2 separate regions of the Homo sapiens genome follow, and region 2 is linked to region 1. The links come from fine-mapping of genetic effects on gene expression. A gene starts in region 1. The other region holds a variant in brackets. All regions are shown on one strand. Distances are between the middles of the regions.

The links. PIP is the estimated chance that this variant, and not a neighbour inherited with it, causes the effect. A credible set is the group of variants that fine-mapping cannot tell apart.
Region 2: its variant is the best candidate, but not a certain one, in a credible set for the expression of NRARP in lymphoblastoid cells (GTEx, PIP 0.69).

What each region holds. Positions count from the first base shown.
Region 1 is chr9:137,299,267-137,304,634 of GRCh38, reverse strand. It overlaps NRARP (NOTCH regulated ankyrin repeat protein), which reads left to right and starts at 2,364. Exons shown (of 1, transcript NM_001004354.3): 1 at 2,364-5,004. The coding sequence starts at 2,707. The coding sequence ends at 3,051. RefSeq lists silencers at 1,805-2,444, 3,127-3,206, 3,277-3,336, 3,457-3,506 and enhancers at 2,147-3,065, 4,865-5,368.
Region 2 is chr9:137,397,267-137,402,634 of GRCh38, reverse strand. The region is part of intron 1 of EXD3 (exonuclease 3'-5' domain containing 3); the gene reads left to right. Among named protein-coding and RNA genes, the nearest start is that of EXD3, 23 kb to the left of the region's middle. The variant A/G (reference allele first, on the strand shown) is at 2,129.

The DNA.
Region 1 (5,368 bases):
GGCCCCTCCCCCCTTCCCATCCTCAAATGGAGCAGCTTCAGGGCCGTGGGTGTGCCCAGGGGAGCTGGGAGCCACGGTGGAGGAGCAGGAGCCAGGGCCACTCAGCGAACTCCCTGTGGGCAGTGTGGTGTGGCCAGCCTCTGAGTCCCACAGATGAGCCTGGGTACCTGCCTTGGGCCACAGCCACACTGCCGTGGCAGGCCCCACCACCTCTGCCTGACCCCGCTCTGGACCCCGGGCAGGGGGTAGGTTCCCGCCCTGCAGGGCCGCCACACCAGCCTCACTGTGCCTGCCGGGGCGCCCGCACCGCCTGGCCCTCGCCAGGGGCCGCTGCCGATTTCACGCCCGTGGCGGGGCCCCGCGTTCCCACACCGAGCTCACACAGGGCCCCTTTGTTTGCCGCCGCCACGGATGCCGACGGCACTTTCTCCCAGGCCCTGCTCCTGGCCCACAGCATAGCCAAATGCCTTCTCCAGGCCCGGCTTGAGCCCACCTGGGCTTCGGCCTGTTTGCAAACCACCCACCCTCCAGGGGAGGCCCTGTGCCTGTTGAGCACCAAGGGCTCTGCCCACCCCCCAGTCATGCCCTCTGCCTCTTGCCAGTCTAGCCTGGCTGGGCCCTGGGCATATGCACAAAATCCATCAATGCCCAGGACAGAGCTCCTGCCCTCCTGACAGTGAGCTCAGAGCACCCTGCACACCCAGCCCTGGTCTGAGGTCCAGAGACACAGCCAGCACCAGGGACCAGCAGGCAGCCCAGCGGCTCCCCCTCCTTAAGAGGCCAAAGGTGCCCAGCAGAGCACGGCAGGCCAGGCCATGCCATCCCTGCCCCGGGCCTGGGCTCCACAGCGCCCATCTCTGTTCTGCTGGGGGCCTACTCCGGGACTCCACTGTGTCCTCACCTGCATATTGGGGAGCACCCCTCCACCCTCCGTGGCCCCCTTGAGAGCTCCTGGGAGAAGCAGTGAGGCCCAAAGGAGAGAGCTGAACAGAACCAGCGGGATCACGGCCCCAGGAAGACCAGAGCGAGCTCTGAGCTGTGCCTTTGAGGGACAGAGGTTCCCAGCCCACCAGGAGGACCCCAGGGCCTCAGGACCCTGCTCCGGTCAGCCAGGGTCTGTCCCGAAGGGAGCCTGCCCAGTTTTTCCTGCCAGTATGGGCACAGCATGGGGTGGGGACACACCCCTGTGGGGAGCCGGATGTGGGGACATGGAGCTGGTGGGCGGAAGCCTCCTCAGACAAGGCCTGGCATGGGGGTCTCCCCAGCCCGAGCTCAGAGCTGCCTGCGCGGAATTCCCGGCTTGGCTTCAGAAGGAATTCAAGCCCCAGCCTGCCTGGCCTCCTGCTCCGCGCCTGAGAATCACTCCTCCTTAATTTCCAACGACCACAGCGAGTTGTAAACTGTAAAACTCTAATGAGGAAATGCGCTGTGCTTCCCCTGCTAGTGCCTCCCGGTCAATTGTTAGAGTGGTCAATAAAAATGGGTTTTACAGTTTGGAAGCCAGGCGTTTCAGAATTCCCTTCTGGCCCTGGCGCCACACCTAGCCCTGCTCACCTGGGCAGGACCTATGTGTCCCGCATGCTGGTGCGTGGGCAGCAGAGGGAGGCAGGCCGCGGTCCCGACCCTCCCGCTGCGCCCCGGCCCGGGGCTTCCTCCCGAGAGGACAGCGGAACCCCCTTCACCGCCAGGCGATAGAAGCCGCGGTGGCCGGCCGGAGGCCCCTCGCATCAGTACGGTTGGGGCACACATAGGCTGAGCCGGCGGCCATGAGGCTGCCCGCGCGCGGGAAGGACCCGCGTGGCTGAAGGCCCCACGTCAGGGCCTGGAGTTGCCACCCGCGTGGACGGTGAGCCCGGAGGCGCGGGCTGGCCGGGGTCGCCGCGCGCCTCTCCGCTCAGAGGGGTCTCTCCTTCGCCACGGGCCTGAGATGCCCGCGAACCCCCTGCCCGGGAGAGGCCGCCCTCGGGGCCACCTGGCGGTCGCGCTCGGGTACCGGGCAAGGCCTGGGTCTGGCTGCTGAGGGAGCTTGGAATTCCCCGGGTGGCCGGAGGGAGAAGGGGCGGGACGACCGCAAAGAGACGCGGAGCGCCCGGGGGGCGCGCGGACGGCGGCGGCGACGGAGCTGGACCCCCCCGGCGGCCACCTGGCCTCCCCCGCCCAGGCGCTGCCGGCGACCAGCGCCCCCTGCCGCGAAGCGCGCCGCCGCCGGGACCCGCCCCCGGACCCCTGCGCACGGCACCGCCCACGCCCCGCCCCCATGTGGGCGCGGCCCAATCCCGGGGCCGCCGGCGCGCGCGTCACGGGCTGCCATTGTTATGCAAATATAAAGAAGGTAAAAGGCGCCCCGGCGCGGCGGGCGAGCTAGTGCTGCGGCGCGTGGGGAGGCGCCTTGGGACCGCGTGGGAGCCGCAGCCGAACCGAGTAGGGACCGGGACCGCGCGGCGCCGCCGTCCCCGGCCGGGCCCGGCCCCCGCGAGCCGAGCGCGCGCCCCCGTCGCCCACCCGGGCGCGGCTGGATGCGGCGGGGTCCCCGCGGCGGCGACCCCCGGCCCCGAGCGCCCGGAGCGCCCAGAGGCGGCGTGCGGGGCCCGGGGACGCCGCGCCCTCCATGCGCCGAGGCGCGCCCCGAGACAGCCGGGGGCCCGCGCCGCAGCCGCCGCCCGCGCTGAGCCCCGGCCCGGCCCGCGGCCCGCGCCCGGCGGCAGCATGAGCCAGGCCGAGCTGTCCACCTGCTCCGCGCCGCAGACGCAGCGCATCTTCCAGGAGGCTGTGCGCAAGGGCAACACGCAGGAGCTGCAGTCGCTGCTGCAGAACATGACCAACTGCGAGTTCAACGTGAACTCGTTCGGGCCCGAGGGCCAGACGGCGCTGCACCAGTCGGTCATCGACGGCAACCTGGAGCTCGTGAAGCTGCTGGTCAAGTTCGGCGCCGACATCCGCCTGGCCAACCGCGACGGCTGGAGCGCGCTGCACATCGCCGCGTTCGGTGGCCACCAGGACATCGTGCTCTATCTCATCACCAAGGCGAAGTACGCGGCCAGCGGCCGGTGATGCCCGCCGGGACCCCGGACCCCGGCCCTGCGCCCGCGTCGTCTCTGCTGTACCTTCCCGCCAACTACCTCGGTGCGCGCCCGGCTCGCAGGCCCCGCCAGAAGGCCCGTGGCCACGGCGAATACGGCGCGTGCGTCCCGGCCCCAGGGTCCGGCAGCCCCGCCGGCCGAGCGCCTCCCTGCGGCCTAGCCGGGCCCGGCCGGGCCGGAGCAGCTTCCCACGGCCCCCACCCGCTCGCCTGCCCGCCGCCTCGCGGGTGGGGGCGGGGCGCGGGCTCCAGCCCCTTTTGAAATTTGAGTCTCGCAACCAGCAAGTTCGGAATCCCGAGATACCGGATCCTCTGCGCAAAATGTTTTCTCCCGAAGGTGAAAGGCGGGCGGCGGGAGCCGAAGGCGGACTCGGAGCGCTCCGCCGCCGCCTTCAGGACCCGCCCGCAGGCCCGGGACGCGCCGATGCCGGCTGCAGCCGAGGAGCAGCCCCGAGGTCCGAGGTCCGCGCCGCTGGCGCGCGGCCGAGGAGACGCTCGGCTGTTCGCTGTTGCTGGTGTTCTAAACTATTTATCTTGTGTGTGTACATTTGTGGGTGGAGTTTGTGCGCCTGGTTTTTTTGTTTGGAAAACACTGCGTGGTCAATGTGGTTATGGGGGGGAGTGATGCATTTTTTTCTAGTCTTAAAACTAAAAACTTGAGTCTACCATTTCTTGGTTGCACTGAAAATACCGCCCAGCCTGATGGTGTTCCCGTGCTGTCCCTCCCCCTTCCCTTCTCCCCGCGTCTACCTCCCCACCCCGTTCTGTTCCCCCTCCCTCCTTCTCCCTCTCCCTCAAATCCGTGAGTTTTGGAAGCCCCAGGGCCTCTCTCCCCCGCCCCTCCTGGATGAGGCCACCATCCCCCAAACCGGCTTGTTTTGCAGTTTCCCCAGGATCCTGGAAGCTCGCTGGCGCTCGAGGGTGGCGGGGACACGGGGGGGTGGGTGAAGGTTCGTTACCTTTTCTAGTGCGTTCTATCATAGTTAACGGTTGCACACTTTTTTAAAAAAAGTAAATGGATTTGCCACAATTAAATGTCATAACATTTATGACAGAATATAAAATATTAACATATTTTAAGCCAAGTTTTAGGTGTATTTTTTGAATCTTGGTTATAAACCCAATTTTAAAGGGCGATGTATCCAGCGTTGTGAAGGCAACAGAGTGTACCCATATTTATATTTTTATAAAATACCTATAAGACTGTGAATCTCTTGTGCTAATGGCTGAGTTAATTGAAGGATCGTTTTGCCCCTTTTTAGCCTCCCAGAGCTTCGAGGACTCAATTCGAACCCGAAATCCTGCCGTGGGGGAGGGGTTGCGTCGAGACCTGGGCCCGGGGAGGTTCTCCTGCGTCACTTTCTGTCCTGAAAGGCGCCCTTCCTGGTTTCTGTGGCTCCAATTTTCTATGCAGCCCCACACCCCTTGTTGTTTTGATCCTGAGAAATAAAAGGGAGGCTGAATTATTCAAATTTAAATGAGGTTTCCCCTTCATGGAAGTGCTGCTGACCCTTCGTGCAGAAATGGGGAGCACTTGAGGACACAGGTGGGTGGAGGCCCTTTGTGCGTGGCTGGTCGTATTCGGGCAGCCCTCCGTCGCTTTTTATAAAACTTTGTGTGAGAAGAATATATTGATAATGTCAGTGAAACAAGCAGACATTGAAATGGAGGCACAGATTACTCCACAAGGAGTTCTTCTGTATATTTTTTCTAGATGCAAATACCTTTTTAATTATGTTAATTAATGTTAAGACTTTCTAGGCTTATATCGAAGCTGTGTGTGGGTCACGGGGTGATCACTGCTAACTGGATAAAGTTTGTGCAGCACATTCCTGAGTGTACGATATTGACCTGTAGCCCAGCGTGAAAAATTTATAAATAAATTTTTCATTGATCTTTTTATATTAAAAAAAAGTTTCTTGGTCCTTCTTGGCTTTGGCACAAGTTGCAGAACACCCTCTCTGGGGACGAGGGTCAGGCTGTGACACGGTTTGTGGGTGCTGGGTGCACAATGCTTGGCTTGTATTTGTCTGAAGACAGAGCCTGGTAAACTCGCTCCCAGCCCCACGCAACGGCCAAGCCCAACCCGGCTGCACACAGGACTCACGAGGACCCAGCACCTCCAGCGTGCCCAGAGCTGGTGTCACAGCCTCTGCTCTGTTCCCCAGCAAAGCAGCTGAGACCTCCGCTGGAGAGGAGAGTTCGGCCTGAAGCCCTGCCCACTCTGACCCGCTAGGGGGTCATGCTGGAGGCTGCCTGCTGCACAGAAAGTGTATCTTGTAAATTGGG
Region 2 (5,368 bases), 98 kb before region 1:
CTCAGAAGACAAGAAGATGTGGGAAGGTTTGGAACCTCCTAGAGACTTGTTGAATAGCTTTGACAAAAATGCTGATAGTGTTATGAACAATAATGTCCAGGCTGAGATGGTCTCAAATGGAGATGGGGAACTTGTTGAGAACTGAAGCAAAGGTGACTCTTGTTATCTTTTAGCAAAGAGACTGGCAGCATTTTGTGCCTGTCCTAGAGATTTATGGAACTTTGACCTTGAGAGAGAGATGATTTAGGGTATCTGGTGGAAGAAATCTCTAAGCAGCAAAGCATTCAAAAGCTGACTTGGATGCTGTTAAAAGCATTCTGGGACCAGGCACAATGGCTCACACCTGTAATCCCCACACTTTGGGAGGCTGAGACGGGCGGATCACGAGGTCAGGAGTTCAAGACCGGCCTGACCAATATGGTGAAACCACATCTCTACTAAAAATACAAAAATTAGCCGGGCGTGGTGGCACGCACCTGTAATCCCAGCTACTCAGGAGGCTGAGGCAAGAGAATCACTTGAACCAGAAAGGCAGAGGTTGCAGTGAGCCGAGATCACACCACTGCACTCCAGTCTGGTGACGGAGCAAGACTCCATCTCAAAAACAAAACTAAAAAAGAATTATGTTTAAAAAGGGAAACAGCATAAAAATTCAGAAAATGTGCAACCTGACGCAGTAGAAAAGAAAAACCAATTTTTTCAGGAGAAATTCAAGCCGGCTGCAGAAATTTACATAAGTAGCAAGGAGGCTAATGTTCATCCCCAAGACCATGGGGAAAATGTCTCCAGGTCATGTCAGAGACCTTCATGGCAGCCCCTCCCATCATAGGCCTGGAGGCCCGGGAGGAAAAAGTGGTTTTGTGGGCTGGGCCCAGGGTCCCTGTGCTGTGTGCAGTCTAGGGACTTGGTGCCCCATGTCCCAGACACTCCAGCCGTGGCTGAAAGAGGCCAACATAGAGCTCGGGCTGTGGCTTCAGAGGGTGGAAGCCCCAAGCCTTGGCAGCTTCCACGTGGTGTTGAGCTTGTGGGTCCACAGAAGTCAGGAAATGAGGTTTGGGAACCTCTGCCTACATTTCAGAAGATGTTTGGAAATGCCTAAATGTCCAGGCAAAAGTTTGCTGTGGGGCGGGGCCCTCATGGAGAACCTCTGCTAGGGCAGTGCAGAAGGGAAATGGGTGGGGGCCGGGCACGGTGGCTCACACCTGTAATCCCAGCACTTTGGGAGGCCGAGGCAGGCAGATCACAAGGTCAGGAGATCAAGACCATCCTGGCTAACACGGTGAAACCCCGTCTCTACTAAAAATACAAAAATATTTAGTCGGGTGTGGTGGCGGGCATCTGTTGTCCCAGCTACTTGGGAGGCTGAGGCAGGAGAATGGTGTGAACCCGGGAGGTGGAGCTTGCAGTGAGCTGAGATCGCGCCACTGCACTCCAGCCTGGGCAACAGAGTGAGACACCATCTCAAAAAAAAAAAAAAAAAAAGGAAATGGGTGGGAGCCCCCACACAGAGTCCCTACTGGGACACTGCCTAGTGGGACTGTGAGAAGCAGGCCACTGTCATCCAGATGCCAGAATGGTAGATCCACCGACAGCCTGCACCATGTGCCTGGAAAAGCAGCAGACACTCAACACCACCTGTGAAAGCAGCTGGGAGGGAGGCTGTACCATGCAGAGTCACAGGGGTGGAGCTGCCCAAGACCATGGGAACCCACCTCTTGCATCAGCATGACCTGGATGTGAGACCTGGAGTCAAAGGAGATCATTTTGGAGCTTTAAAATTTGACTGCCCTTCTGGATTTCAGACTTGCGTGGGCCCTGTAATCCCTTTGTTTTGTCCAATTTCTCCCATTTGGAACTTTTTTTTTTTTTTGAGATGGAGTCTCGCTCTGTTGCCCAGGCTGGAGTGCAATGGCGCGATCTCGGCTCATTGCAACCTCCACCTCCCAGGTTCGAGTGATTCTCCTGCCTCAGCCTCCCAAGTAGCTGGGACTATAGGTGGGTGCCACCACGCCCGGCTAATTTTGTATTTGTAGTAGAGACAGGGTTTCTCCATGTTGGTCAGGCTGGTCTCAAACTCCCGACCTCAGGTGATCCACCCTCCTCGGCCTCCCAAAGTGCTGGGATTATA[A/G]GAATGAGCCACCATGCCCGGCCCAGAATGGCTGTATGTACTGAATACCTGTACCCCCATTGTATCTAGGAAGTAACTAACTTGCTTTTGATTTTACAGGCTCATAGGCGGAAGAGACTTGCCTTGTCTCAGATCAGACTTTGGACTGTGGACTTTTGGGTTAATGCTGAAATCAGTTGAGACTTTGAGGGACTGTTGGGAAGGCATGATTGGTTTTGAAATGTGAGGACGTGAGATTTGGAGGGGCCGGGACGGAATGATGTGGTTTGGCTGTGTCCCCACCCAAATCTCAACCCGAATTGTATCTCCCAGAATTCCCACGTTATGGGAGGGACCCAGGGGGAGTAATTACATCATGGGGGCCAGTTTTTCCCATGCTATTCTTCTGATAGTGAGTAAGTCTCATGAGATCTGACGGGTTTATCAGAGGTTTCCTCTTTTGCTTCTTCCTCATTTTCTTTTTTTTTTTTTTTTTTTGAGATGGAGTTCTGCTCTGTCACCCAGGCTGGAGTGCAATGGTGCAGTCTCAGCTCACTGCAACCCCTGTTCCCAGGTTCAAGTGATTCGCCTTTCTCCGCCTCCTGAGTACCTGGGAGGCACCACCACCACGCCTGGCTGCTTTTTGTATTTTTAGTAAAGACAGGGTTTCGCCATGTTGGCAGGCTGGTCATGAACTCCTGACCTCAGGTGAACTGCCCGCCTCAGCCTCCCAAAGTGCTGGCATTACAGGAGTGAGCCACTGTACCCGGCTCTCATTTTCTCTTGCCACCACCATGTAAGAAGCGCCTTTCGCCTCCCACCATGATTCTGAAGCCTCCCCAGCCATGTGGAACCATAAGTCCAATTAAACCTCTTTTTGTTCCCAGTTTCAGGTATGTCTTTATCAGCAGCGTGAAAATGAACTAATATGGGGGTTAGGAAGAGAAGCCAGGAATAAGAGAGGAGACCCTTGTAAAAAGCTTCAGAAAACCAGAACTCGTGGATAGTATTAAATTTGTGATAGCAGAAATGAACCTTTCAGTGAGAGGGTTGCAAAATAAAGTTCAGGAAATCTCCCAAAAAGGCAGAGAAGGAAAGATGAGAAGACAAAGTAATTCTCAGGAAGTGTAAGTTCTAAACAGCAGGAGTTCCTGAGGACAGAACTGAGGGCGTGGAGGGCAGGACACCATCGGGAAGCCACATGCAGAAGGGTGGCCACGGAGCCCCCAGGGGACCACACCATGTCCGTCCTGCTGGGATCCGGCCACGGCCCCGGGGTCTCCCCAGAAGATGCTGGCACTCGAGTCAGGGGGCATCAGATTTCTCAGCAACCCCTGAGGCTAGAAGACAGTAGAGGGGCGTTACCATGACCGTCAGGAGAATGACCCCTGCCCCACAGCCACGCACAGCCAGGCTTCCAGTGGAGGTGCAGTGTGCGTGTGTCATGGGGACGTGGATGCGCCTGTGCCACAGGGACAGTCTGTGTATGTCACGGGGATGTCGGTGTGCACGTGTTACGAGGATGTTGGACGCGTGTCACGGGGACATGGTTGCCTGTGTGTCTTGGGGATGTGTCTTGGGGACGCGGGTGCACATGTGTCACGGAGACGCGGTTGCCTGTGTGTCTTGGGGACGCGGGTGCATGTGTGTCACGGGGACGCGGGTGCCTGTGTGTCTTGGGGATGCGGGTGCACGTGTGTCACGGGGACGCGGGTGCCTGTGTGTCACGGGGACGCGGGTGCCTGTGTGTCACGGGGACGCGGGTGCCTGTGTGTCTCGGGGACGCGGGTGCCTGTGTGTCTTGGGGATGCGGGTGCACGTGTGTCACGGGGACGTGGGTGCCTGTGTGTCTTGGGGACGCGGTCGCCTGTGTGTCTTGGGGACGCGGGTGCCTGTGTGTCTTGGGGACGCGGGTGCCAGTGTGTCTTGGGGACGCGGTTGCCTGTGTGTCTTGGGGACGCGGTTGCCTGTGTGTCTTGGGGACGCGGTTGCCTGTGTGTCTTGGGGACATGGGTGCACATGTGTCATGGGGACGTTCTCAGACAAGCAAAGGGCTACTCAGTGCTCCTCCCTTGCGGTTCTGCCTGAGGTGCTCCTGGAAAAGGTGCTCCCTTAGAACTAGGAGGTGAACTTCGGGGAGCACAGGGGACAAGAGGGAAGGGGGTCCAGGGTGAGCAGGGCTGCAGTGCAGCCATCCAGACGGAGGCAGGCAGAGGCTGGGGAATGGGTGTCTCCACAAAGCGTGTGAACCCCAGAGCCAGGCGTGCAGTGCTGCAGACGGGGCCGTTCACCAGGGGAACAGAGGGCGCCCGGCTGTGGACCGTGGAGCCACAGTTCCTTCTGTCTTTCCCCCTCGTTCTTTCAATCTGGTCCTTCTTTGATCTGTTTTCAGATTCACTGACTCATCTGCCATCCACCTGCTGTGAAGCACAGCCACTGAGTCAAACACATTTCAGTGATGACACTTTTTATTGCCGAGTTTCCATTTAGCTCTTTTATGTAGTTTCATATAATCTTCATTTCTCTCCTTTTACTCATTAAAACCATATTTTTTAACTTTATTCATGGTTTTTTGGGGTTTTCTTGAGACAGGGTCTCGCTCTGTCATGCAGGTTGGAAGGCAGTGGTGCGATCTCGGCTCACTGCAGCCTTGATCTCTGGGCTTCCAGCGACTCTTCTGCCTCCGCTTGCTGAGTAGCTGGAACCAAAGGCGTGAGCCACCACACCCGGCTACTTTTTAATTTTTTTGTACAGTTTGACCATGTTGCCTAGGATGGTCTCAAACTCCTGGGCTCAAGTGATCCTCCCGCCTCAGCCTCCCACACTGCACTCGGCCTCCTTGAACTGTTTGAACATGTTTTCTGTTCATTCTGTGAACGCAGTTGAAATCGTTGTGTTAAAGTCTTTGCTAACACCAATAACTTTGAGGCCTTCCTCGAAGTTGCTTTCTGTTCTCTGTTTTTTGTGTTTTTCCACTTGTTTATGGGTCATATTTCCTTGTTTCTTTTTAGGTCTTGTGATTTTTATTACGTGCTGAGTTTCGTGAATTATCCATTGTGGAAACTCTGGATTTAGGTATCATCCTCTGAAGAGCATTGTTTTTCGCTCCGGTGGGCTGTTCAGCTTCTGGCTGAGTCCCTTGAACTTGGGGTTGTGTCTTGATGTTTTGTCAGGGGCTCTTCGGAGAGCCTAGGGCCTTTCTCAAGCCTCCTAAGCTGGGTGGGACTCAACCTTCTCCAGCTTTCACGGGCTTGGTCTGGA